Linked DNA regions of Homo sapiens. The protein of the gene in region 1 purifies or fractionates together with the protein of each later gene. This does not show direct contact. Each region holds a gene or a part of one and is shown in the gene's direction. Other genes may lie near its edges.

The links.
Region 2: the proteins of VCAM1 (region 1) and FANK1 purify together in Homo sapiens (affinity purification with mass spectrometry; one large-scale study listed by BioGRID and IntAct). This does not show direct contact.
Region 3: the proteins of VCAM1 (region 1) and ACAT1 purify together in Homo sapiens (affinity purification with mass spectrometry, with the first as the bait; one large-scale study listed by BioGRID). This does not show direct contact.
Region 4: the proteins of VCAM1 (region 1) and RAVER1 purify together in Homo sapiens (affinity purification with mass spectrometry, with the first as the bait; one large-scale study listed by BioGRID). This does not show direct contact.
Region 5: the proteins of VCAM1 (region 1) and ATP1A3 purify together in Homo sapiens (affinity purification with mass spectrometry; one large-scale study listed by BioGRID and IntAct). This does not show direct contact.
Region 6: the proteins of VCAM1 (region 1) and STAT5B purify together in Homo sapiens (affinity purification with mass spectrometry, with the first as the bait; one large-scale study listed by BioGRID). This does not show direct contact.
Region 7: the proteins of VCAM1 (region 1) and PODXL2 purify together in Homo sapiens (affinity purification with mass spectrometry; 2 studies listed by BioGRID and IntAct, with this or other methods). This does not show direct contact.

Annotation. Positions count from the first base shown.
Region 1 is NC_000001.11:100,718,320-100,722,541, forward strand, and holds the start of VCAM1 (vascular cell adhesion protein 1 isoform a precursor), read left to right. Parts: upstream 1-1,422; 5' UTR 1,423-1,541; coding exon 1,542-1,605; intron 1,606-2,156; coding exon 2,157-2,432; intron 2,433-4,222. UniProt on the Homo sapiens protein: Cell adhesion glycoprotein predominantly expressed on the surface of endothelial cells that plays an important role in immune surveillance and inflammation.
Region 2 is NC_000010.11:126,007,328-126,010,092, forward strand, and holds the end of FANK1 (fibronectin type 3 and ankyrin repeat domains protein 1), read left to right. Parts: intron 1-1,079; coding exon 1,080-1,223; intron 1,224-1,726; coding exon 1,727-1,804; intron 1,805-1,894; coding exon 1,895-1,939; intron 1,940-2,045; coding exon 2,046-2,111; 3' UTR 2,112-2,265; downstream 2,266-2,765. UniProt on the Homo sapiens protein: Through the activation of JUN and AP-1-mediated transcription, may regulate apoptosis.
Region 3 is NC_000011.10:108,131,567-108,135,066, forward strand, and holds part of ACAT1 (acetyl-CoA acetyltransferase, mitochondrial isoform b precursor), read left to right. Parts: intron 1-340; coding exon 341-388; intron 389-2,253; coding exon 2,254-2,371; intron 2,372-2,654; coding exon 2,655-2,750; intron 2,751-3,500. UniProt on the Homo sapiens protein: This is one of the enzymes that catalyzes the last step of the mitochondrial beta-oxidation pathway, an aerobic process breaking down fatty acids into acetyl-CoA.
Region 4 is NC_000019.10:10,320,030-10,323,529, reverse strand, and holds part of RAVER1 (ribonucleoprotein PTB-binding 1), read left to right. Parts: coding exon 1-155; intron 156-255; coding exon 256-385; intron 386-790; coding exon 791-885; intron 886-1,911; coding exon 1,912-1,999; intron 2,000-2,270; coding exon 2,271-2,482; intron 2,483-2,578; coding exon 2,579-2,875; intron 2,876-3,500. UniProt on the Homo sapiens protein: Cooperates with PTBP1 to modulate regulated alternative splicing events. Promotes exon skipping. Cooperates with PTBP1 to modulate switching between mutually exclusive exons during maturation of the TPM1 pre-mRNA.
Region 5 is NC_000019.10:41,980,731-41,984,230, reverse strand, and holds part of ATP1A3 (sodium/potassium-transporting ATPase subunit alpha-3), read left to right. Parts: intron 1-2,124; coding exon 2,125-2,323; intron 2,324-2,399; coding exon 2,400-2,509; intron 2,510-2,594; coding exon 2,595-2,729; intron 2,730-3,500. UniProt on the Homo sapiens protein: This is the catalytic component of the active enzyme, which catalyzes the hydrolysis of ATP coupled with the exchange of sodium and potassium ions across the plasma membrane.
Region 6 is NC_000017.11:42,220,892-42,224,391, reverse strand, and holds part of STAT5B (signal transducer and activator of transcription 5B), read left to right. Parts: intron 1-835; coding exon 836-1,010; intron 1,011-3,500. UniProt on the Homo sapiens protein: Carries out a dual function: signal transduction and activation of transcription. Mediates cellular responses to the cytokine KITLG/SCF and other growth factors. Binds to the GAS element and activates PRL-induced transcription.
Region 7 is NC_000003.12:127,642,685-127,646,184, forward strand, and holds part of PODXL2 (podocalyxin-like protein 2 precursor), read left to right. Parts: intron 1-3,500. UniProt on the Homo sapiens protein: Acts as a ligand for vascular selectins. Mediates rapid rolling of leukocytes over vascular surfaces through high affinity divalent cation-dependent interactions with E-, P- and L-selectins.

The DNA of each region.
Region 1 (4,222 bases):
CCCTAGAACAGCATCTCCAACTTATTTTTCCCTCCTTGTCTTTTAGTGGGAGCCACATCAGTATCCAAGAGGAGATCCAGAAGCCTCTCCAACCAGGTAGGGACAGTTATAGATTCCAGACCTCAGCTATGGCCTTTGTTACAGAGTACAAATGTTATATAGTACAAGTTTATTGTACACATCCCATTGAGTCTCTGAGCTTTAGAATTTTCTTGTAGAATTTAACAGTTTTTTCATGCCGTATTTACATATTATTGCTAGTATTTAGAATTTTCTTCTCCAAATGTATAACGTTTATTATTGCATTTTTTGTATCCACTAAGTGGAAAATCATGCATTAGATATTGTAGAAGTAGATACAACAATGAACAAGAACTGGTCCTGACCATGAGAGGAACTGATGATCCAATGGGGGAGATAGACCTGCACGTGTTTAATAAAAGGAAGTGGCTATTCCGGTTTCTTTTTGATGGGCAAGCATTTTGCAAGGCCTTGGGCTATGTGTGTGCAAGGCTAAGCCAGTTAGTTAATTGGGATTTTTTTAAAAAGGCACTTCACTGGGGGGAAAAGGAACATAGAGTTGGTTATTGTCCCCTTGCCTATAATAAAAACCTATTATTTTTAATTTTTTAACTGGGTTTGCGGTTAAATCTCACAGCCCAAGAGATTTGCCACTTCAGATGGATTCCATACACTTGCATTTAAGTATGCAAAAAAATTCCAATTATCCAGCAATTTAACCAAATTATTGGTAACTTTTCTAAAACAAAAAAAAATTGTTTCCCTTGTTTTGGCAGCAATTTCAGTTACAGTCCTTTACTTTCTACTCAAGAAAATAGTTTCAAAAAGTTGATGTTTGTTGCTAAAAGAACTATTTTTATGAATAAATATAAAACTAAGAAGTTATGGTGTCCCTTTTTTAAAAAATGACTCATCAAAAGAAATAACTTTTTCCTTTCTCTTGTAAGAGAAAAAAATTAATCTCTTTTAGAATTGCAAACATATTTCCTTGATGGAGAAAATCAATTCACATGGCATAGTCGTTATTTATCCAGTTCAAAAACCAGAGTAGAATTTACTACTCTGTCTCCATTTTTTCTCTCCCCACCCCCTTAACCCACATTGGATTCAGAAAGCTTCATTCTGCAATCAGCATTGTCCTTTATCTTTCCAGTAAAGATAGCCTTTTGGAGTCGAAGATGAGGAAAAGCCTGTATTTTATAGTCTTGGAAGTGTCTTCTTTTGCCAGGACAGAGAGAGGAGCTTCAGCAGTGAGAGCAACTGAAGGGGTTAATAGTGGAACTTGGCTGGGTGTCTGTTAAACTTTTTTCCCTGGCTCTGCCCTGGGTTTCCCCTTGAAGGGATTTCCCTCCGCCTCTGCAACAAGACCCTTTATAAAGCACAGACTTTCTATTTCACTCCGCGGTATCTGCATCGGGCCTCACTGGCTTCAGGAGCTGAATACCCTCCCAGGCACACACAGGTGGGACACAAATAAGGGTTTTGGAACCACTATTTTCTCATCACGACAGCAACTTAAAATGCCTGGGAAGATGGTCGTGATCCTTGGAGCCTCAAATATACTTTGGATAATGTTTGCAGCTTGTAAGTTATTTCCCTTCATCTGTTTCAAATGTTAGCATTCAATTTTAGCCCTGGTTTTGGCTTCAGTCAGTTTTGCGATAGTAGTGAAGTAAAGACACTAGGATTTTAAACAGTAGGAAAAGTTAATTTAGTCTAACTTTTAATATGCAATTGAGTTTTGCTATATACCATTGTACTGTCATAGTTAGAGCTGAAAATTGATGTTTTTGGTATCTTTTTTTCCAAAGGCAATTGAGTAATTTGGATTCTGTCTCTAGTCGGTCTGTCTCTTTAGTTTCCTATACTTGACAATGAGGTCAAACTTAGCAAATAACAAAACAGCTTTGATAAATGGGCATCAAGGTTGGAACTGAGAATTCTCTCTACTGAAGATGATTCCATAAACTTTTTTGGCAGTGACTTCGGTGCTTTTTGGCTACCTTGCAGTTAGTTTGAAGCAGCTTAGGAAAGAGATCAGTCTGATCATATTTTAGACATTATACAGAGAAGAAGGAGGAGAATACTAGACAAACTAGTGGTAAATTTGCTTCTGTCTTTTTTTGCTTTTGCAGCTCAAGCTTTTAAAATCGAGACCACCCCAGAATCTAGATATCTTGCTCAGATTGGTGACTCCGTCTCATTGACTTGCAGCACCACAGGCTGTGAGTCCCCATTTTTCTCTTGGAGAACCCAGATAGATAGTCCACTGAATGGGAAGGTGACGAATGAGGGGACCACATCTACGCTGACAATGAATCCTGTTAGTTTTGGGAACGAACACTCTTACCTGTGCACAGCAACTTGTGAATCTAGGAAATTGGAAAAAGGAATCCAGGTGGAGATCTACTGTGAGTGCTTTAGAAAATCTTTGTTTTTCTCTCAATTTTACTTTAAAATCACTTTTTAAAAATGATATTTTAAAAAAAGTTTTAAAATGGATATTCATGTACAGATTCTTGGCTAAAGAACATACAACATCAGGAAAGCTAGGGACAGCTAAGGCCAACATGAGAGAGAGCAGGAATCCAAATCTTGGCTTCTATTTCTACCTCTGCCACAAACACAGTGACCATGTATAAGACTCAACCTCTCTGGGCTCTGGTTTCCTTAGCTGTAAAATGATCATTTCTAAGTTTCTTTTTGTTTTATTAAAAAATATTTCCATTTGATTACATCCTTACATGTTTACTTGCTTATGTGTCTGATTGATTTATGAATTCCATCCTTCAGGGATTTTCTATTCATTTATTCTTATGCAATTTGATGCTTAAAATTAGTTTAAACATTAAGTAGATCTATAATTAGTAATATGTATTAGTATAAAAGTGTTCTTCTTAGACATAATTGTTAATATCTGGAAACATTTCAATCATTTGACTTTGGTGTTGACACATTTAGGATTTTTTTTTGGTTTTTTTGGTGCCATGAAGCCTTGGTGCTCAACCGCTCAACTTCAAAGATATTTATATAATGAACTAGATTTGCCTCATGAAAGTGAGTGGATGTCCCTAGTTTACCAGCCTGACAAAATGCATCCCACTCCATTCTCCATTCAGCAAACAAAGTTAGCAAGAGGAGTAAAAAACTAACCAGACATAAATCATTTGCCTTTTGTTACTGATGGCCTCTCTTTCTAAAAAACTGAACCCATTTACGGTCATGTCTTCATGAAGACCTCATTTGATTATAATTACTTTGGTTTCGTTTTATTGTACCGGAGCTCAACTTTTCCCAGTAACCTTAATTGATTCTGCAACAAACCGCATGTGTTGCTCAAGCTTCCCAAGAAACTGTGCTTGGCCGGCTGCTTTCAATTATGCTGGTTGTATGTGCATAGTTTATGTCTGTGCAGCCTCCCGAGCTCCTTGAAAGCTTCCCTTATGTAAATACAGGGAAAAGTAGCAAGTTCTTATGTTACCTGACATCGAACTGTGTGGATTAGAGGAACATTTCTTACAGAATATGAGGGACAGAAATTATTGCTGGAAAAATGAAAAATACCATGTTTCTTCACATAGGAAAGAATTTCCAGCTCCTTTGTCTTTTGCCCACTAGTACCAAATAGTTGAAGATTTAAGAAAGAGAAATGAAGACGCTTCTGGTTTTAATTATCTTGCCTGAGGTTTTTCTCCAAGAGTGTCTGTTTCTCATTATGTATAACAGTTCTGTCTCCTTTCCGCATTTGATTGTAATAGTGGTTAGAGTTGAGACCTTTGTATTCTTTTTGCTACACAGTTTTGAATCCACCAATATGTTACTTCATCATAATGCATAATGAAAAAGGTAACTCTTGCAAAGGAGGCAATGGCCACGTGAAGTAGTGTATTTCCTTGTACTAGAAGCTTCAATGGAACACTTGTTGGGATAGTGAGTTAGGCATTTCAGGAGGCAAATATGTGTTCCAGAACATAAAGATTGCACAAATGTATCTTTCTGGTGGATGAATTCCTGTCAGAGGCACCATTTTCAGAAGCTAATTACTTAAAGTTGGTCTTCTCATTTCTTAGAATATCTTGACAATAACTATTCTTTGCAATGACATTCCAAGGCTTACAGTCATTATCTGTAAAATGGAAATATATCTGCCCTGACTATAATAAGAAAATGTGATGTAACATAATGTAAATCTGTAGTAGCA
Region 2 (2,765 bases), on another chromosome or scaffold:
CTGATTAACGTTTAGGACCAAAAGAGAAAGTGTGTGTAAAGAGGGTTGAAAGCTGTGTAAAGCATCATGTAATATGAGGTGCTTATTTTATTATTCTTTAAATATAATGGAGTGTGTTGCCCACAGGTTAGTTCTTTGCATGAAGAAGAGCTGCAAATCCAAATCATGTTACAGTGGATAATCTTATATGTAGAAATACCCTGAAGTGCTCCCAAGATCTCCTGGAAATTCCTTGTTTGTTTTTCCATTCTGATGTTTTACTAAAGCTATGGATCATCTTTGAGTAATTCTTCTGTAACAGATTGTGTGTGTGCGTGCACGTGCTCATGTGTGCTTATGTGCACATGGTATGCGTGTGTGCACACACGAGTGTGTGTGCGTGTCTGAGCACAAACACGTATCTGTCTTTACTTCAGCACCACTCTTCATGGATTGGCGATGTCTTCATTGGAATTGGAAGCGACAATATTTACATTTTCTTAATCTAAAATATTTATTTTAAAACACTAAATTGAGAGATTTCAGTGTAGAGAAGATGATCAGGAAACAGCCATCTGATTACTGGGCACACTGTTTTGGAGAAGCCTTTAGTCAGACTTTTCAGACAGAGTTTGTGTAATGAATCTGGTTGTTCTGTATTTTACCTGTAGGTCTCCTGCCTAAAATTGATAAGTATTAGTAAGTATAAGTGTGTATATATATTATTACTGTCTTGTTCCAGAAAGGATGTAAAGCTGCTTACAACAATACATAAAAGTAAGAAAAATGAATGCTAGGTGAGGAAAGTTAGGCAAGAGAAAATAAGAACTCCCCAGGGGCCAAGTGGAAAGTAGTTCAGTTAACTTTTCTAGCCCATCTTTTTTCCACTTTAAAGGATGTAGATGAAGAAGCCGGTGGGGAGACCCTGGGGCCTCTCAGCACCAAAATGTGACTTAAATTAGCACAGTGCAATGAACCAAATATAGAAAGACGGCTATCTAAGTCCGGGTGTTGGGGCAAGCAAATATTCCTTTTATAAGTTTGAATCATTTTAAGAAAAAGAAATTGGGCTCAACACAGCTGTTTCTCTGGCCCAACAGGTAGACGTCGTGGACACTGGTTCAGGATGGACCCCACTCATGAGAGTCTCTGCGGTGTCGGGAAATCAGAGGGTGGCCTCTCTTCTAATTGATGCTGGGGCCAATGTGAATGTGAAGGACAGAAATGGAAAGACGCCCCTTATGGTAGGTCCTCCTCCCGAAAATAGGCAGTTTTCTACGTGGAATTAATGTCAGAGCTTTTTCTGTAATTAGACAATTCTTGTGAGTTCAGCCCTGCACCAGCCCTTGGGTTTGACTGTGTGTGTGTGTTCCCTGTCGGCTTGTTCATAAGGGCATGAGGCTGTCACTAGAATACTTTCGTTGTCTTTTTACAACTATTTAAGGACTAAAGAACCCCTGTCCCCAGGACCACTGTGGGATCAAAACAGAACTGGTGAAACAAAGAACAAGCTGCTTTCTGTTCTGGTTTTAGTGTGGATAGAGGGAGTCCATTTTCCATTTTCTCTGGAGTTGCTACCATACAGCTGCAGAGGAAGCGCTGTGCCTGCAGGCCATGCAAAGCCACAGTGGTCTTTTGGGGTTGCAGGGGGGCTGCTGGGACCCTGCATGTGCCAGGCTCATGCCCCCTGCTGTGTGTGCCCTGGAGGGAGAAGCTCATGCACACCACCCTGGGTTTTGTTTTCTAGGTGGCTGTGTTAAATAATCATGAAGAGTTAGTTCAGTTACTTCTTGACAAAGGGGCAGATGCAAGTGTAAAAAATGAGGTAAATGAGTCCATCTTTATGTAAAGATTTTCCTCGGAGGGGGAGAAAACATTTATAAGCATGTAAAATTTTTGTTGTTTCCTGTTTCAGTTCGGCAAAGGTGTCCTAGAAATGGCCAGAGTTTTTGACAGACAGGTTGGGATGCTCTTTCTGCCTATCAAGGCTAATTTTTAGTCCTTCTAGACTCAGAAAAACCACCAAAACCCTGGATTACATTCGCCTGTCTGTTTTGTTTATCTAGAGTGTAGTCTCCTTATTAGAAGAAAGGAAAAAAAAGCAGAGGCCAAAGAAGTCTTGTGTCTGCTGATGAGAGCACCACTCATCTGCGAAACGCACGTAAAACAAAGTGAACCGTGACTGTTAAACTAGGGATGGGAAATTCTGCATCTTGGGGGGCTGTACATTTATTTATTTAGTTGAAGATTCACTGATCCCACTTTGAAATACATCTTTTTACCTAAGCATGTGCGTATGTGGTACCATCATTGGGTGTCTGTAGAATGGGGATGTTTTCTTGCACTTGCGCCTTTTGGAGTTAGACATGAAACAAAATATTTATGCACCGGAGCTACACAAACACACATGGGGTCTCCCACTCCCGGCTCCTGCCCCGCAAGCTGTCCTTCTACCATGCTAGGCCTTGTTGGAATTCTTTCCCTCATGTGTTTTCAATTAAATCCTCCCCTCCCAACTTAGGGCTTCCAGGCTGGTTGTCAGGCCGCTGCTCCCTCCTGGAGTGGCGCTCCTCCGAAAAGCCCAGGAGTTTTCTCTTCAGCTGTTGGCCTCACATCAAAGCTCAGAATACATATTTCAGGACTCTGATTCTGTTCTATTGGAGGTGTCTGATTGAGGGTCAGCCTTTTTGGCCACAGACAGGTCTAATGTGTTTGCATATACTCATGCCCTGACAATGGAAGACTCAGCCTGCTGATGGGTGGACGATGTAGCCAAAGGGTAGTAT
Region 3 (3,500 bases), on another chromosome or scaffold:
GTCTTGAACTCCTGACCTCAGGTGATCCGTCCACCTTGGCCTCCCAAAATGCTAGGATTACAGGCATGAGCCACCACGCCTGGCCAAGACTTGGAAATTTTAAGATAGTAAACTTAAGAGTTAAAACGTACATTTCCAATGAATAGTTAATTAGAAAAGTTTATTATAAAGCAGTCATTTTTTTCTAATTGTTAAAAGTGATATATTCTGACCACAAAAAACTTGGAAATAAAAGCATAAGGATGCAGGAAGAAACCACTATAACCTTATCACTGAGAAATATAAAATGATATAGTTTAATATTTTTTACATTATAACATTATAAATATTTATATTACAGGAAATAAGATATGTGGAACGGAGTTATGTATCAAAACCCACTTTGAAGGTAAGTAATTTAAATTGTGCTTTAAAATTTCCAGAATTTAAAGGAAATGTCAATAAAAATGCATATACTTATGATTTGGATACATGTGAAAGTCAAAGCAGGATTATGTAACAGTTAGGAATAGCTAACTATTCAAATATTCAGTTAAAGTAGATGACTATAATAGAAAAACATGTCAGTTAGTCTCTGCCAATGTTTGTTGCTTCCTTATAGTCTGCTACAAAACAACATTCCCTCTAGAACTGGGCAGTGTTCTTCTTTTACTCACAGGGACTCGCATTGTATTGTGTGTGGTACAAGCAGAGACTGTATAGAAGATCCTAGAAGAGAGGGAGTGGACCAGTTGGGAATTAGACAAGGAGGGCCATTACAGCATCTCCTAGGACCTTCTGAAGAGTCTCTGTTTTGTAAGGGTCACTAAAGTGACTTAGTTAAGATCTTCTATCAAAATCTAAGCAACCATTCTGTTATTTATCTCTAAACTTAATAGGAGATTGTGGAAGACAAGTGTAAGGAGAGAACTGTCACAGTGCTGTTTTATAGTATTCAAGAGAGCTTTTATCTTCTTTTGCTTAAAGTTCATATTATTGTCTTACTGTTTAAGAAATTATGGCTCTGGGCCGGGTGCGGTGGCTCACACCTGTAATCCCAGCACTTTGGGAGGCCGAGGCAGGTGGATCACGAGGTCAGGAGATCGAGACCATCCTGGCTAACACGGTGAAACCCCATCTCCACTAAAAATACAAAAAATTAGGTGGGCATGGTGGCAGGCACCTGTAGTCCCAGCTACTCGGGAGGCTGAGGCAGGAGAATGGCGTGAATCCGGGAGGCGGAGCTTGCAGTGAGTTGAGATCACGTGCCTGCACTCTAGCCTGGGCAACAGAGCAAAACTCCATCTCAAAAAAAAAAAAAAAAAAAAAAAAAAAAGAAAAAAGAAATTATGGCTCTGGCTGGGCACAGTGGTTCATGCCTGTGATCCCAGCACTTTGGGAGGCCAAAGTGCGTGGATCACCTGAGGTTAGGAGTTCAAGACCAGCCTGGCCAACATGGCAAAACCCCATCTCTATTAAAAATACAAAAATTAGCCGGGTGTGGTTGCAGATGCCTGTAATCCCAACTACTCAGGAGGCTGAGGCAGGAGAATCACTTGAACCCGGGAGGCAGAGGTTGCAGTCAGCCAAGATCATACCACTGCACTCCAGCCTGGGTGACACAGTGAGACTCCATCTCAAATTACATATAAAAAAAGAAATTCTGGCCCTGGCTCTGTCCTAGTTAAGTGGTATTGCCCCACCTAGGATACAGGTCTTGATTCCTAGCCAGAGTTCCTTTCAGTAAGGGACCCTCTTAGAGTTGTTTATTATGCAGTTAACAAGAGTAAAGTGGCTGAGTGTGGTGGCTCATACCCTTAATCCTAGCACTTTGGTAGGCTGAGGCAGAAGGATTGCTTGAGCTGAGGAGTTTGAGCTGCAATGAGCTATGATTGTGCCACTGCATTCCAGCCTGGGCAGCTGAGCAAGACCCTGTCTCAAAAACAAAAATACAAAAACAAACAAAAAAACAAGGTACAGTGATCATTTCTTGAATTTTGACTGAGGAATAGAAAGGAAACTTAAGCTTCTGTCCTCAAACCTCCTGTAGAGAACTGGGAAGGATCTACATCTGTTTTAGAGTTGGTTTCTATAAGGTCTTAAATCATAAAGCACTAGCATTGAACTGATTATCTTGACAGCTGTTCAACTATTGAGATTAATTTTTGATGACTCATTCATAGAAGTGTTTTTTTGATAATATATTTATGTTTATTTAATGAAATACGATTTGGGTAAAATACCTATAATTTTTACCATCTTGTGTCTTGCCAGGAAGTGGTCATAGTAAGTGCTACAAGAACACCCATTGGATCTTTTTTAGGCAGCCTTTCCTTGCTGCCAGCCACTAAGCTTGGTTCCATTGCAATTCAGGGAGCCATTGAAAAGGCAGGTCAGTAGTTACTTGGCTTTTTGTGTTAAGGGAGCAAAAAGATTCCATGGAAAAGATATTTATTTTGCATTAACTATGTATGTAACACTTAGAAATAACTTAATGCCTACATTTCTGCTTTCCCTTGTAAAGAAGTCTTTGTACTATACAGTTTAGATTGAAACTCAAAACTGACAAAAAAAAGAAACCATTCCTATTGTGTAATGTCACCTACCTTATTAGGTAATCACTGATTATTAAATTGAATTAAATGCCTTTTTGACTTTTTTTTTTTTTAATAAAGGGATTCCAAAAGAAGAAGTGAAAGAAGCATACATGGGTAATGTTCTACAAGGAGGTGAAGGACAAGCTCCTACAAGGCAGGCAGTATTGGGTGCAGGTACCTGGAAGACTTTTTTGCTTTTATACTTAAAATGTGTAAAAGGGGCCGGGTGCGGTGGCTCATGCCTGTAATCCCAGCACTTTGGGAGGCCGAGGCAGGCGGATCACGAGGTCAAGAGATGGAGACCATCCTGGCCAACATGGTGAAACCCCGTCTCTACTAAAAATACAAAAATTAGCCAGGTGTGGTGGTGCACTAATCCCAGCTACTTGGGAGGCTGAGGCAGGAGCATCGCTTGAACCCAGGAGGCGGAGGTTGCAGTGAGCCAAGATTGCACCATTGCACTCCAACCTGGGCGACAGAGTGAGATTCTGTCTGAAAGAAAAAAAAAAAAAAAAAAAAAAGGCTGGGCATGGTAGCTCACGCCTGTAATCCTAGCACTTTGGGAGGCCGAGGCGGGTGGATCACGAGGTCAGGAGATTGAGACCATCCTGGCTAACACAGCGAAACCCTGTCTCTACTAAAAATACAAAAAATTAGTTGGGCGTGGTGGCCAGCACCTGTAGTCCCAGCTACTCCGGAGGCTGAGGCAGGAGAATGGCGTGAACCCAGGAGGTGGAGCTTGCAGTGAGCCCAGATCGCGCCACTGCACGCCAGCTTGGGGGACAGAGTGAGACTCCGTCTCAAAAAAAAAAAAAAAAAAAAAAAAGTATAAAATGGCAAAATGAAGGTTATTTAAGCTTAAATGAAATATTAAATGCATGATATAATTTGTAGTTATATTGGCAGAAGAAATGTTGTAGTTTA
Region 4 (3,500 bases), on another chromosome or scaffold:
CGGTGCTGGAGTATGAGACGGCTGAGATGGCGGAGGAGGCACAGCAGCAGGCGGACGGCCTGTCCCTGGGGGGCAGCCACCTGCGAGTCTCCTTCTGCGCCCCTGGGCCCCCCGGCCGCAGTATGCTGGCCGCTCTCATCGCTGCCCAGGCCACGGTGAGCCTGTGCGGGCAGAGGTGGCGGGGTGGGGATGGGAGCCCCATGGGGATGTCAGGGCCCCAGCGGCACTCTGAGCTGCTTCTGTTCCTTCCTGCAGGCCCTCAATCGGGGGAAGGGACTCCTCCCCGAGCCCAACATCCTGCAGCTGCTCAACAACCTGGGCCCATCCGCGTCCCTCCAGCTGCTGCTCAACCCCCTGCTCCATGGCAGTGCGGGGGGGAAGCAGGGTAAGGTGGGGCTGGACAGGGGCCCCACTGTGCAGAACAGGGGCTGCAGCGCTGCCCCCGGCACTTCCCGAAACTGCTCATCTTGGCTGCAGTGACAGGAGCCCCAGGAGTAGGGCCGAGGGGGAGTATGGAGTCATAGCGGGGGCTGCTGCTGTCCACAACTGGGGGCCGGGACCAGGGCCACACAGCAGCCTGCAGTGAGGTGGGGTGCTGACAAGAGGGGGCTGACCTTCACTGGAGTAGCCTCTGCCCCTTCTAGGCCCTTCCTTTGGGCAAGTCCACTGCCCACCCCCCGGCCCCAGAGTGTCAGTTTCCTGCCCCATCAATGGGTTCAGGGCTGTGTTTCGTGAGGTGGGGCAGGGAGGACACAGGGACCCCCACACATCCTCCTATGTCTCCCTCCAGGCCTCCTGGGTGCCCCCCCAGCCATGCCGCTGCTCAATGGGCCAGCCCTGTCCACGGCGCTGTTGCAGCTCGCCCTGCAGACCCAGGGCCAGAAGGTAACACACGCATCCCCCTCACCCACTGCTCTACAGCCCCTACAGGCTCTTTTCAACACAGCTGGTGCGATCGGTGGGGTGGGGGGACCTCTGGCTGTGCCCTGGGGGCGCAGAACCAGGGTGAGGGCGACTCCCCCAAACCCCTGCCTTTCCCACCCACATCCCCATCCCCCTCTGGCAATTGCTCATGATGGTTCGCCATCTTTCCCTCCATTCTGAGAGCGCCCCTGGACTTGGTGCCTGGGGTGGGGTCAGGGGACCTGGACACGCCCATTTACAGCCTGAAACTGGGTGTGGGCTGGGAGCGCCGCTGCTGGGCACCAGTTTGTGAATAGACTCTGCTCGGAAGCTCTATAGACATGCCTGGGAAAAAACTCCAGGTCTATCCCCTCAGTGTGTGCACACACACACACGCACACCTAGAAACACAGGTATACATATAGACTCACACATACAAAGATGCAAATATACACACAGAGACATAGACACACAAAGACATAAGACAAAGACACACACATAGACACAGACACACATATAGACACAAGACAGACTCATGCACACAGAAACAAAGACACAGATATACACGCACACACACACACAGACACACACACACATAGACATACACCCATGCTCCGTCCTGTCTGGTGTGGTTCCCTGGATTCTAAGTCAGGTGTGTCTGTCTGGTGGTAACTGACAGAATATGTGAGCCTGTGGGTCTGGCCTTCTGTGACTAAAAGTGGCTGAAACACTGTGTGGCTGTCCCATTCCATGTGGCTGCAGTTGATACTGTGCTGCAATCATTGGCCAGGGAACTGGGGCCTGGAGCTCAGGAGACCCTCGGTCACCATGGCTGATGGGACAGTGATAGAGTTGGAGTGTGGCGGGCACTGGGGAACCCTGTGCCTGTCTGCCCAGGATCGGCCGTGCCCTGGAGTTGGGGTGTGTCTGCCAAGACTCTGGGCCACACCTGTCTGCTTCCCTGGGCCACCCTGCCCCCATCTGCAACTGTCTGTGCTCTGTCCCTAGAAGCCCGGCATCCTGGGAGACTCACCCCTGGGCGCCCTCCAGCCTGGGGCCCAGCCAGCCAACCCCCTCCTCGGGGAGCTGCCTGCAGGTAACGCAGACCCTGCCCACACGGTGTCCCCCAGCCACTTCCCCTTCCTTCCCTGCTACGTGGCCTCGGGTGAGTGACCCAACCTCTGGGTCCCAGCGCCCTTGTCCATCAGTTGGGTGCCCTCCACTCAGGGCCCAGGGATGAGCTCTGCTCAGTGGCCAGCATGGATTTGTCTCTTGACCCCTGGGCCCTGGTCCAGGTGGGAGCTGGAGGGCCCTGGGGAGAGGGGTCCTGTGAGCCTGGGCCCCTGAAATCCTCCTTCCCTCCCTAGGAGGGGGCCTGCCCCCGGAGCTGCCGCCCCGGCGAGGGAAGCCACCACCCCTGCTGCCATCCGTGCTTGGCCCTGCTGGGGGTGACCGGGAGGCCCTGGGCTTGGGTCCCCCAGCGGCCCAGCTCACTCCTCCCCCCGCCCCTGTGGGGCTCCGAGGCTCTGGCCTCAGAGGCCTCCAGAAAGACAGTGGGCCTCTGCCGACGCCCCCTGGGGTAAGGCCCTGCCCTGCGCGCGGCACCACACCAGCCTCCTGTTCCGCAGGGTTCCCTCTCCCGGGGGCCCTCTCGAATCCTGCCTTCCCGCCACAGGTCTCACTGCTGGGGGAGCCCCCCAAGGACTACCGGATTCCCCTGAATCCCTACCTGAACCTACACAGCCTGCTCCCGGCCAGCAACCTGGCGGGTAAGGAGGCCCGGGGCTGGGGAGGCGCCGGGAGAAGCCGCCGCCCAGCTGAGGGCCCCCCAACTAACCCCCCAGCCCCTGGAGGTGGCAGCAGCAGCAGCAAAGCCTTCCAGCTCAAGTCCCGCCTGCTCAGCCCCCTCAGCAGCGCCCGCCTGCCCCCCGAACCAGGACTGTCTGACAGCTACAGCTTCGACTACCCCTCGGTGAGTGCCTGGCTGCAGCTCTCTGTCCCCTAAGGCCAAATCATTCTCCAAACTGATATTTCTCTAGGATTGACTATGCCAGGCCATGTGCTAGGGAGGCGGCAGGGAACGTGCCAGATATGGTCTCTGCTTTTTTTTTTTTTTTTTTTTAGAGACAGGGTCTCCCTCTGCTGCCCTGGCTGGAGTGCAGTGGTGCGATCATAGCTCACTGCAGCCTCAACCTCTTGGGCTCAAGCGATCCTCACACCTCAGTCTCCTGAGGAGCTGGGACCACAGGCACGCACCTCCATGCCCAGCTAATTTTTAAATTTGTGGTAGAGACGGAGTCTCATTGTGTTGTCCAGGCTGGTCTCAAACTCCTGACCTCAAGTGAGCCACCCGCCTCAGCCTCCCAAAGTACTGGGATTACAGGCAAGAGCCACCGCGCCCAGCCTCATGCCCTTAAAGTTTCCCGTCTGTCTGCACATCACCCCCTGCTTCCGGTCCACCTGCCTGTCTGTCCATTCTCGAGCCCTGGAGGATCTTGGGTCTCAGTCTGTCTGTCATCCTGCGTCTGTCTTTCTCTCCCAAGAGGACTTAGGCCACACTGTCTCTCCCCAGAGACAGGGCTTGCCCTTTCTATCCC
Region 5 (3,500 bases), on another chromosome or scaffold:
ATAAATAAATAAAATAAAATAATAAGCCTGGCGCAGTGGCTCACGCCTTTAATCCCAACAGTTTGGGAGGCTGAGGCAGGAGGACTGCTTGAGGTCAGGAGTTTGAGACAAGCCTGGACAACATAGTAAGAACCCATCTCTACCAAAAAATGTGAAGGCTGGGCGCAGTGGCTCATGCCTGTAGTCCCAAGACTTTGGGAGGCCGAGGCGGGTGGATCACCTGAGGTCAGGAGTTCGAGACCAGACTGGCCAACATGGCAAAACCCCATCTCTACTAAAAGTATAAAAATTAGCCAGGCGTGGTGATGGGTGCCTGGAATCCCAGCTACTCAGGAGGCTGAGACAGGAGAATAGCTTGAGCCTAGGAGGCAGAGCTTGCAGTGAGCCGAGATCGTGCCACCTCACTCCAGCCTGGGCGACAAAAGCGAGATTCTGTCTCAAAAAAAAAAAAAAAAAAAAAAAAATTTTTTTAAATTAGCCAGGCGTGGTGGTACATGTCTGTAGTTCCAGCTATTTGGGAGGCTGACCCGGGAGGTTGAGGCTGTAGTGGGCCATGATTGAACCACTGCACTCTAGCCTGTGTGACAGAGGGAGACTCCATCTCAAGAAAATAATAATAATAATAATTATTATAATAATAATAATTATTATTATTATTTTTAAAAATTTTTTCTCTGGCTGCTTTGCTGCCAGCTTCACCCCAGAAGTCCATTCTCTGTGAGGTTCCGCCTGACAGCTGTGAGCATATTGACTAAATGCTGTCTTCAAGGTGCATGGCAGGGACTATCTTAGAAATACCATTCTCCTCTTTCATTCTTTGACTTAATGTTTTATGTGAAGTTTTCCATATTAGGGCCGGGCAGGGTGGCTCACGCCTGTAATCCCAGCACTTTGGGAATCCGAGGTGGGTGGATCACTTGAGGTCAGGAGTTCAAGACCAGCCTGGCCAACATGGCAAAACCCCATCTCTACTAAAAATACAAAAATTAGCCAGGCGTGATGGTGGGCGCCTGTAATCCCAGCTACTTGGGAGGCTGAGGCACAAGAATTGCTTGAACCTGGGAGGTGGAGGTTGCAGTGAGCTGAGATCGAGCCACTGCACTCCAGCCTGGACGACAGAGCAAGACTGTGTCTCAAAAAAAAAAAAAGTTTACTGTTTTCCATATTAGCAATGTTGAATGCTACCCTATGTCAAATGGATTTTTATACGCAAAGGATTAAGCATATTGTGAGCACATAGTCTGATGATTTGGGGCAAACTGAACAGAATCACGTCAGCTGCAACGAGACTGCGTCTCCCTGAAGCCCCCTCAAGACCTTATTTAGCCCCTGCCCCCCAACCCAAGGGTAACCCCTGATCTGGCTGCTAACAGCATAGATTAACTTTGCCTGTGTTCAAACTTCCTATTAACGGAATAATTCAGTATGAACTCATTTCTGGCTCTTTTTGGCTGAACATGTTTTTGACGTTCACCCATGCAGGTGCAGGCAGCAGTAATGTATTTGTTTTTATCAATGTTAGTATTCCATTGTCCACAATTTATCTTTTCTGCTGTTAGTGGACATTTGAGTAGTTTGCAGTTTTGGACAATTTTTTTTTTTTTTGAGTTGGAGTCTCACTCTGTTGCCCAGGCTGGAGTGCAGTGTCACGATTTCGGATCACTGCAACCTCCACCTCCTGGGTTCAAGGGGTTCTCGTGCCTCAGCTTCCCAAGTAGCTGGGATGACAGGAGTGTACCATCATGCCCTGCTAATTTCTGTATTTTTAGTAGGGATGGGGTTTCACCATGTTAGCCAGGCTGGTCTCGAACTCCTGATCTCAAGTGATGCGCCTACCTCGGCCTCCCAAAGTGCTGGGATTACAGGCGTGAGCCACTGCACCTGGCTGTTTTGCACTATTATGCATGTGGCTGCTATGAGCATTCTAGTCCCTGTCTTTGGGTGTCTCTGCCCTGTTTCTATTGGTCTGAATTGGGGGTGGCATTGCTGGGTGCTGCCTCATTCTTTTCCAGGCCCTCAGGATTCTCTGGGGGCTGGGCAGCTGGGCTGTGGCCCTCGTGTCGCTCATCCAACCCTGCTGCCGGGCTTGTCCCTGTAACTTGCCTGCCCTTGCTCGTCCTCCAGGTGTGTCTGACGCTGACCGCCAAGCGCATGGCCCGGAAGAACTGCCTGGTGAAGAACCTGGAGGCTGTAGAAACCCTGGGCTCCACGTCCACCATCTGCTCAGATAAGACAGGGACCCTCACTCAGAACCGCATGACAGTCGCCCACATGTGGTTTGACAACCAGATCCACGAGGCTGACACCACTGAGGACCAGTCAGGTGAGCGCAGGCCCCGGGTGAGGACCATGGGGGCCTGGCTCCAGGAGTCCCTGGCCCTCACACATGCCTCCCCCAGGGACCTCATTTGACAAGAGTTCGCACACCTGGGTGGCCCTGTCTCACATCGCTGGGCTCTGCAATCGCGCTGTCTTCAAGGGTGGTCAGGACAACATCCCTGTGCTCAAGGTGGGTTCAGCTACTGGCCTCACCTCGGCCCTGCCTGTGTCCTCCCCTCAGCTGTCCCTGTTCTGACAACCCTTTCTCCTTGCAGAGGGATGTGGCTGGGGATGCGTCTGAGTCTGCCCTGCTCAAGTGCATCGAGCTGTCCTCTGGCTCCGTGAAGCTGATGCGTGAACGCAACAAGAAAGTGGCTGAGATTCCCTTCAATTCCACCAACAAATACCAGGTACTCTGGGCTTTCCGGGAGAGCCAGCCTGGACCTCAGGTTCCTTATGACGCCTGTAAAGAGGTGTCATAGAGCCTTGATTTTCCCGTCTGTAAAATGGGAATGATAATACCCGCCTGGTGGGGAGAGGAACAGGGAGAGCTTGAGAGTGGGAGCCGGATCTCTGTTGGAGTGAGACGCTGAGGAGTAAAGATCTTCCTGCAGGCCAGGCGCGGTGGCTCACACCTTTAACACCAGAACTTTGGGAGGCTGAGGTGGGGGGATCACTTGAGGCCAGGAGTTCGAGACGAGCCTGGGCAAGATGGCAAAACCCCATCTGTACGAAATTTTTTTTTTAATTAGCCAGGTGTGGTGGTATGTGCCTGTGGTCTCAGCGATTTGGGAGTCTGAGGCAGGAGGATTGCCTGAGCCGGGGAGGTTGGGGCTGCAGAGAGCCTACATCACGCACTGTACTCCAGCCTGGGTGACAGAGCAAGACCCTGACTCAAAAAAAAAAAAAAAGTTTTCCTACAGCAGAGAGTGGGAACAAGCAGGAGACCTCTTGGGGCAGAGCAGCAACTTTAAATTATTCAGCAAACTTTTTTTTTTTTTGAGACAGAGTTTCGCTCTGTCACCCAGGCTGGAGTGCAGTGGCGCGATCTCAGCTCACTGCAAGCTCCACCTCCCGGGTTCACACCATTCTCCTGCCTCAGCCTCCAGAATAGCTGGGACTACAGGCGCCCGCCACCATGCCCAGCTAATTTTTTGTATTTTTAGTAGAGACGGGGTTTC
Region 6 (3,500 bases), on another chromosome or scaffold:
CTCATGGGTGATGGAGTGAGACCCTGTCTCAAAAAAAAAAAAATGAAATAGAAGATGTGGTCTCTGATCTTAACTGATTTATAACCTTGATGAGATTGCAACCACAAGACAATGTGAACAAGTGCAAAGTAATTCAACCTCAGCTGAATAATTTTTTAGTAAAGGCATGCTCATATTCAGGTGAGAATACTTAGGAAAGACTTTTCCCTAGCCCCTGAATCAGGTGTGGAAGGAGTGGTCTGATCAGGTCACTTACAGGGCTGGGTCCACAGAGACCTTGTTTATGCCTCCCCCATCACTTCACCCTGGGGTCTCCAGGATGCCTGCAAGAGGTTTGGCCTCTTCCATGGTGGAAGCAAATGATTCCATCACGAGAATATCTTGAGTGAGGACACAGATGATGTGTGTTCACATGGCCCTGCTCCCCATGGCCTCCCTAATGCTTAATGCCGTCCTTGCATTGGGTCAGTGAGTGGAAGAGGAATCACTCCACCTCCTCATTAGTAGGAAAACCCAGGTGACACTGGACCAGGTTACGTTCTAGTTTCTCCAAAGGTAATTCAATGGACCTCGTTTGGAATACTCTGGTGGAGGTCAGATCTGAAATGGAAGCTTCTCCCATGCTTTGTGATCTGAGCCATGATCTGTCCGCTCACCTGTTTCTCACTTTTCCCACTCCACCCTGTGTCTCATGATGACGTTTGCTTTTCCTCCCGACTCAAAATTTACCTTTTGGGGTCTTACCCTGGTTGTAGGAGCTGGCTTTTCCTGGGGATTAAGGCCTCAGTCTTCCTCCCATTCGCACTGCCTTGCACTGCCCCCCATATGTTCCCAGGGTAGCTCTCCAGCTGGAAGCCTTGCTGATGCCATGTCCCAGAAACACCTCCAGATCAACCAGACGTTTGAGGAGCTGCGACTGGTCACGCAGGACACAGAGAATGAGTTAAAAAAGCTGCAGCAGACTCAGGAGTACTTCATCATCCAGTACCAGGAGAGCCTGAGGATCCAAGGTGAGGCGCGGTGGAGGCACATTGTGCAACTTGAGGATTGGGCCTGGGGACTGGAAAGCAGCTCTGGTGGGGTTGGGAGAAAGCACACTTTCCATTCGGAGGCAGCGACCTTTCTCTGAGTAGCAGGGACTTATTTGCATTGAAGACAGTGCTGAGAGGATGAGATTTAGGAAGGGGAGATGACAGGACCCCCCGCTTAAGTGCATATCTCACTCAGGTCCCCACATCCAGGGAGCTTCTGAGCTGCCAGGGAAGACATTTCTTCTTTTGAGAAGGAGCTCACAGTCTAAATAAATACTAGCAAACAATACTTTTGTATATAGTAGGCATATTATAAGTGGAGCTTTATTGAAATGATAAATAGGAAATTATATAATTACATGTTTAAAAATTTTTCTGGCTGGGCACGGTGGCTCACACCTGTAATCCCAGCACTTTGGGAGGCTGAGGCAGGCGGATCACCTGAGGTCAGGAGTTCGAGACCAGCCTGGCCAACATGGTGAAACCCCGTCTCTACTAAAAATACAAAATTAGCTGGGCATCCCAGTGGCGCATGCATGTAATCCCAGCTACTTGGGAGGCTGAGGCAAGAGAATCTCTTGAACCCGGGAGGCGGAGGTTGCAGGGAGCCGAGATCTCACCATTGCACTCCAGCCTGGACAAAAAGAGCAAAATTCTGTCTCAAAAAAAAAAAAAAAAAATTCTAAGCTGGGAGTGGTTTTGCACACCTGTAATCCTGGTGCTTTGGGAGGCCAGGGCAGGAGGATCACTTGAGGCCAGTAGTTTCAGACTAGCTTAGGCAACATAGTAAGACCCTATCTCTAAGGGGGAAAAGAAACCTTTCTAAGCAGGTACGTGTAAGTACTAAGGACCTGTATATGATTTCTAATGTTCTATGCAGTTATTCACAGAGGTCTTCCTGAAACAGAGTACACTTAACGCCCCTTAGGTAGCCCTTATGGACAGAGCTTCCCTAGCCTGGTATAAATCCTGCTTAGTAGTTGGGGCACAGAGAGCTTCAGTCTGTGGTGAGGCTGTGGAGCCCCACCAGCGCCCCCTTTTGACCCTGTAGCAGTTTGGCAGTTTGAGCTTTAATAGTTTCCTCTCTGCTTCCATGCCCAGCTCAGTCTCAGAGAAGCCTTGGCTCAACCACCCAGCCCCTCCAAACACACACACACACAGCACACACAGACAACACAGCACACACACACACCACACACATCACACACACAGCACACACACACACAGCACACACACCCCCCACAGCACACAGAGACACACAGTGCACACACACAGCACACACACACCACACACAGCACACACACAGACACACAGCACACACACACCACACCACACACACCACACCACACACAGCACACACACACCACACCACACACAGCACACACACACCACACATAGCACACACACACACCACACATACACACCACACACACATAGACACACAGCACACACACACACACACAGCACATGCTCCTCTAATTCCATGTATGTAGGTTCCATTTTATGTCTATAGTGATACTACTTATTTACTCTTTATCTTCTCCACTGGAATATAAATCTTTGAGAAGGGACTATATCTTTTATCTCTGTACCCTGAGGCCAGCACAATGCCTGAAACATAACAGTTATTGAGTAAAGGTTGACAGGATGATTCTAGCCTGTCTTCCTTTTTTATCTGAATCCATCCTAGACTGGCCCTAGAAGAAGGGCAGCTCCTTCAGAGAATGGAAACGGAAGATTTGGGATGGCTATTCCTACCCAAGTCCTTAGACTGTCAACAGTATTTCTGATCCCGTGCCTGGCTTTTCTGTTTCCTGTGCATGGTGGCGGATTAGGTTTGGATTCAGGTTGGGTTTGGATCTATCACGCAGTGTCTTCTCAGTCCCATTTGTCAAGTTCACTCAGCAGAAACACAGACTATTGATCTGCTTTTGCCAGGGAAGGCTCAGCTGCCTCCAGTGGAGTAGGGAAATTGCTTCCCGTCTCCCTGGCCTCCTTCCCAAAAGCTTCTGCAAATTTCCAGGAGAGCCCTAAGTGGGTCCCTTGCATAGGAAGGCTGGGCCCAGGTGTTGGGATCACCACCACCCTCCCTGTGGCTGGGCAGGATTCCTGAGGTAGCCGTGCAGATACCTTGGATCTGTCCGTCCCTGGATGATCCTCTTCCTGCTCGATACCTGCAGTGAGATTGGAGCCATATTTCTGAGTTCTAGCTCTGGGCTGTTCCTGGCTACATAGAGTTGCTTTTGTCTGTCCCAGCTTGTGCATCCCATGGGTCAGGGCTGGGGTCAGAGTGACGTGGCCCTCAGGGGCCAGCCAGGAGCTCGACCAAGACATGCTGGTGCGCGCATCTTCTGACTCAGCTCAAGCAAGGACTCTGGGCTGTTGAGAAGGTGATGGGAAGGGATTAATAGTCCCAGTGTGGTGGAGACGGGCTGTCGCTGGGAGGGTGGGGTGGGCCTGCGGTGGTGG
Region 7 (3,500 bases), on another chromosome or scaffold:
ATATGTACAAAACATATGTGTACGTTCATTATATACAGAATATGTGTATTCTATAGAATATACATATACACAAAAATAGTGACCACTTATCACTCTTCTTTTTTATTTGAAGCACAGTGTAGTTAAGAGAACAGGCTTTGGAGTCAGGAAGGCTCCAGTGCTGTCATTTAACAGTGATGCAATTTTTGGCGAGTAACTAACCCTAAGCCTCAGTTTCCCATCTAGGAAATGGAGATAATTATATACCTACCTCACAGGGTTGTGAGGTTCACACACCATCATACATTTCGAGCACTCAGCTCAGTGCTTGGCACATTGTTAAGTGCTCTGTGACTATTAGCTATTATTATTACTTTCCTGTTTTTTTCTATTGAGTCTTTAATTTTTTCTTATCCCTGTACAAATCTGAAAAAGGATACTAACTTTCCTCTGACATACGTAGAAAACATTTTTCCAGTTTGTCAACTGCTTGTATTTTTATTATAATTTTTGGCATAAAGAAATTAAATATTTTATAAGCTTAAAATTACTTTTTTTTTCTTCGAGATGGAGTTTTGCTCTAGTCACCCAGGCTGGAGTGCAATGGTGTGATCTCAGCTCACTGCAACCTCTGCCTCCCAAGTTCAAGCAATTCTCCTACCTCAGCTTCCCAAGTAGCTGGGATTATAGGCATGTGCCACCACGCCCAGCTAATTTTGTATTTTTAGTAGAGATGGGATTTCACTATGTTGGCCAGGCTGGTTTCAAACTCCTGATCTCAAGTGATCCACCTGCCTCAGCCTCTCAAAGTGTTGGGATTACAGGCATGAGCCACCACACCCAGCAAAATTACTTCTTTTAAAATGTTTTTATGTGTTTTTCTTTACTTTATGATTAGAAAATACTTTCTGCCCTTGAGATACATGCACCTTTCTTCCTTCTATTCTTTTTTTTTAATGTAAATTCTTTTTTTAAAATTATTTTTATTTTTTGGACACAGGGTCTCGCTTTGTACCTCAGGCTGGAGTGCAGCAGCACAATCTCAGCTCACTGCAGCCTTGACCTCCTGGGCTCAATCGATCCTCCTGCTTCAGCCTCCCAGGTAGCTGGGACTACTGGTGTACCCCACCACGCCTGGTTAATTTTTCTGTTTTTTGTAGAGACAGGGTTTTGCCATGTTTCCCAGGCTGGTCTTGAACTCCTGGGCTCAAGCAATCCACCTGCCTCAGCCTCCCAAAGTGCTGGGATTACAGGTGTGAGCCAGCACGCCTGGCCCCTTCTATTCTTTAGCTTAATTTTTTACATTTAAGTCCAATCTAGCTGTAATTTATTTTTGTGTGTGGTGTAAGATAAGGATCTAATTTCATTTTCTCCATATAGATCATCTATTGTCATGGCGGCATCCATTGATAAATCTGTCCTCTTATCATTTTAAAGAAATGATATTTTGTTGCTGTTGTTGTTTTGAGATGGAGTCTCACTCTGTTGCCCAGGCTGGAGTGCAGTGGTGTGATCTCTGCTTACTGCAACCTCTGCCTCCGAGGTTCAAGTGATCCTCCTGCCTCAGACTCCCTGGTAACTGGGATTACAGGCGTGCCACCATGCCCAGCTAATTTTTGTAATTTTAGTAGAGGTGGGTTTTACCGTGTTGCCCAGGCTGACTGAACTCCTGACCTCAAGTGATCACCCACCTTAGCCTCCCAAAGTATTGTGATTACAGGTGTGAGCCGCTGTGCCTGGCCAAGGAATGATTTAAACAAACTTTTACATTGTACCAGACAATTATTGGGTCTTTTTCTGGCCTTTCCCTTTTGTTGAGACTATTGAGCGTCTAGTGTGAGGTAAGCAGTCACGCAGAGAGCATTGGCCTCAGGACCACAGTGGAGGGCCCTGAAGCCTTGATGAGCTCGATTTGTTGTCCTCCCCCCTCCCCAGGGGATTCGTTTCCCTTTCTTTTTCTTTCAGTTCATGTCTCTTCCTCTCCCATTTCCTTCCCTAGGTCTCATAAGAATAAAAATAGCTCTCATTCATTGAATACCGGCTATGCATAGGCCTTTGCCTCGATTGTCTCTAGTCCTCACCACAGCTGCATACAGCTTGGCTGTGAGGTGGAGATACCAATCACCCTACCCAGGATGGGCAGAAGGCTAGGGAGGTGCAGGGAGGAGGCCAGGAGGCAGAGGAGGTGCAGGGAGGAGGCCAGGAGGCCAGGCAGGTGCAGGGAGGAGAGTTGCTTCAGTCCTGTCCCTCATTGCTCCTCTCTTGACCTGTCCCCTCGCCTTACGTTTCCTCAGGTCAATCTCTTCTCTGTACTACCTGACCATGATCCTGTGAAAAAACTGGAGTTGCCCATCTTCTTCTCAAACAAACTAGCAAACAAACCCCTTCTCAAACCCCAAAGCCCACAGGTTAAAGGCTGAACTTATTAGCATGGCAGAAAATGCTCTTGATAGTCCGGCCCCAGCCTTCCCCAGCCTCTTCTCCTTCCTTGCTCCAGCATGCATCTGATTAGCTCATCATCAGCTTGTTCTCTTCCTTGCTTGGCAGAGTTGAACTGAGGCATGGGGAAGTAGGGTGCTTTGCCCAAGGACACATTGCTTGGATGTAATGGAGCTGGATCTAGAGTCAGTGTCTTCTCACTGACAACAGCCTGGCCTATTCCCTAAGCCTGTGATGCACTTGTTCCTCTTGTCCCATCTGCTGGGAAGCTCTTCTCCATCCTGATGTGCTAGTGGATATGTATTCGTCCTTGAGTACCTAGCTCAAGAGGACTAGCTTCAAGAGGCTTTTGCCAGCTCTGACCAATGAGCAGGACCAGTGCACGTGGTTATGCTGGTGGTGCCCTGTCCGGGGCTCCTGACCGAGCATGGGAGTTGGAGCTGAAGTCCAGCATACACCCTGCCAACCAGGCCATGGGCTGGGTGGGAGGAGCACCTTTTTCTAATTCATTTGCCCAGAGGGGACATCTCCGTGTACTGGCAGTGGCCCTGAAATCAGGCTAGTGACCCCTGCTTCTGTTTTCTTGCAGCACCTTGATGGCATATGATTAGGACATGACAGAAGAGAAAGTGGCTAAGGTGGCAGGCTGACAGCGAATAGTCAGGCTGGTGTAGGAGGCAGCCCAGGGGACAGTGGCGTGCCCTACCCCCCTATTCTTGTCTGCTCTTGTGCCCCGGAGCCACAGGCTTCTGTCTAGGGGTTCTTGGGGAGAAGGAGGTGGATCACCTCTTGGGGGTTGGAGGAGTCAAAAGAACCTTGAGAGGGCATGCCTGGGTTGGGAGTCCTGCAGAGTCCAGATTGACTGTGCCAAGTGCTATCCTAACATGGCCATTAGGGACATTGAACTCCATGCAGCAGTAGCAGGGACTGCTGAAAACCATGCTGCAGACAGGCCAATCTCAGATCAAGTACAAGTACATCAATCAATGTATTCAACACCCAGTATGTGCCCAGCACTATGTTAGGGGTTGTGGGTTCTCATTTAACGTCCACTGAAAAATGTAAGTATATATTCTTACTTC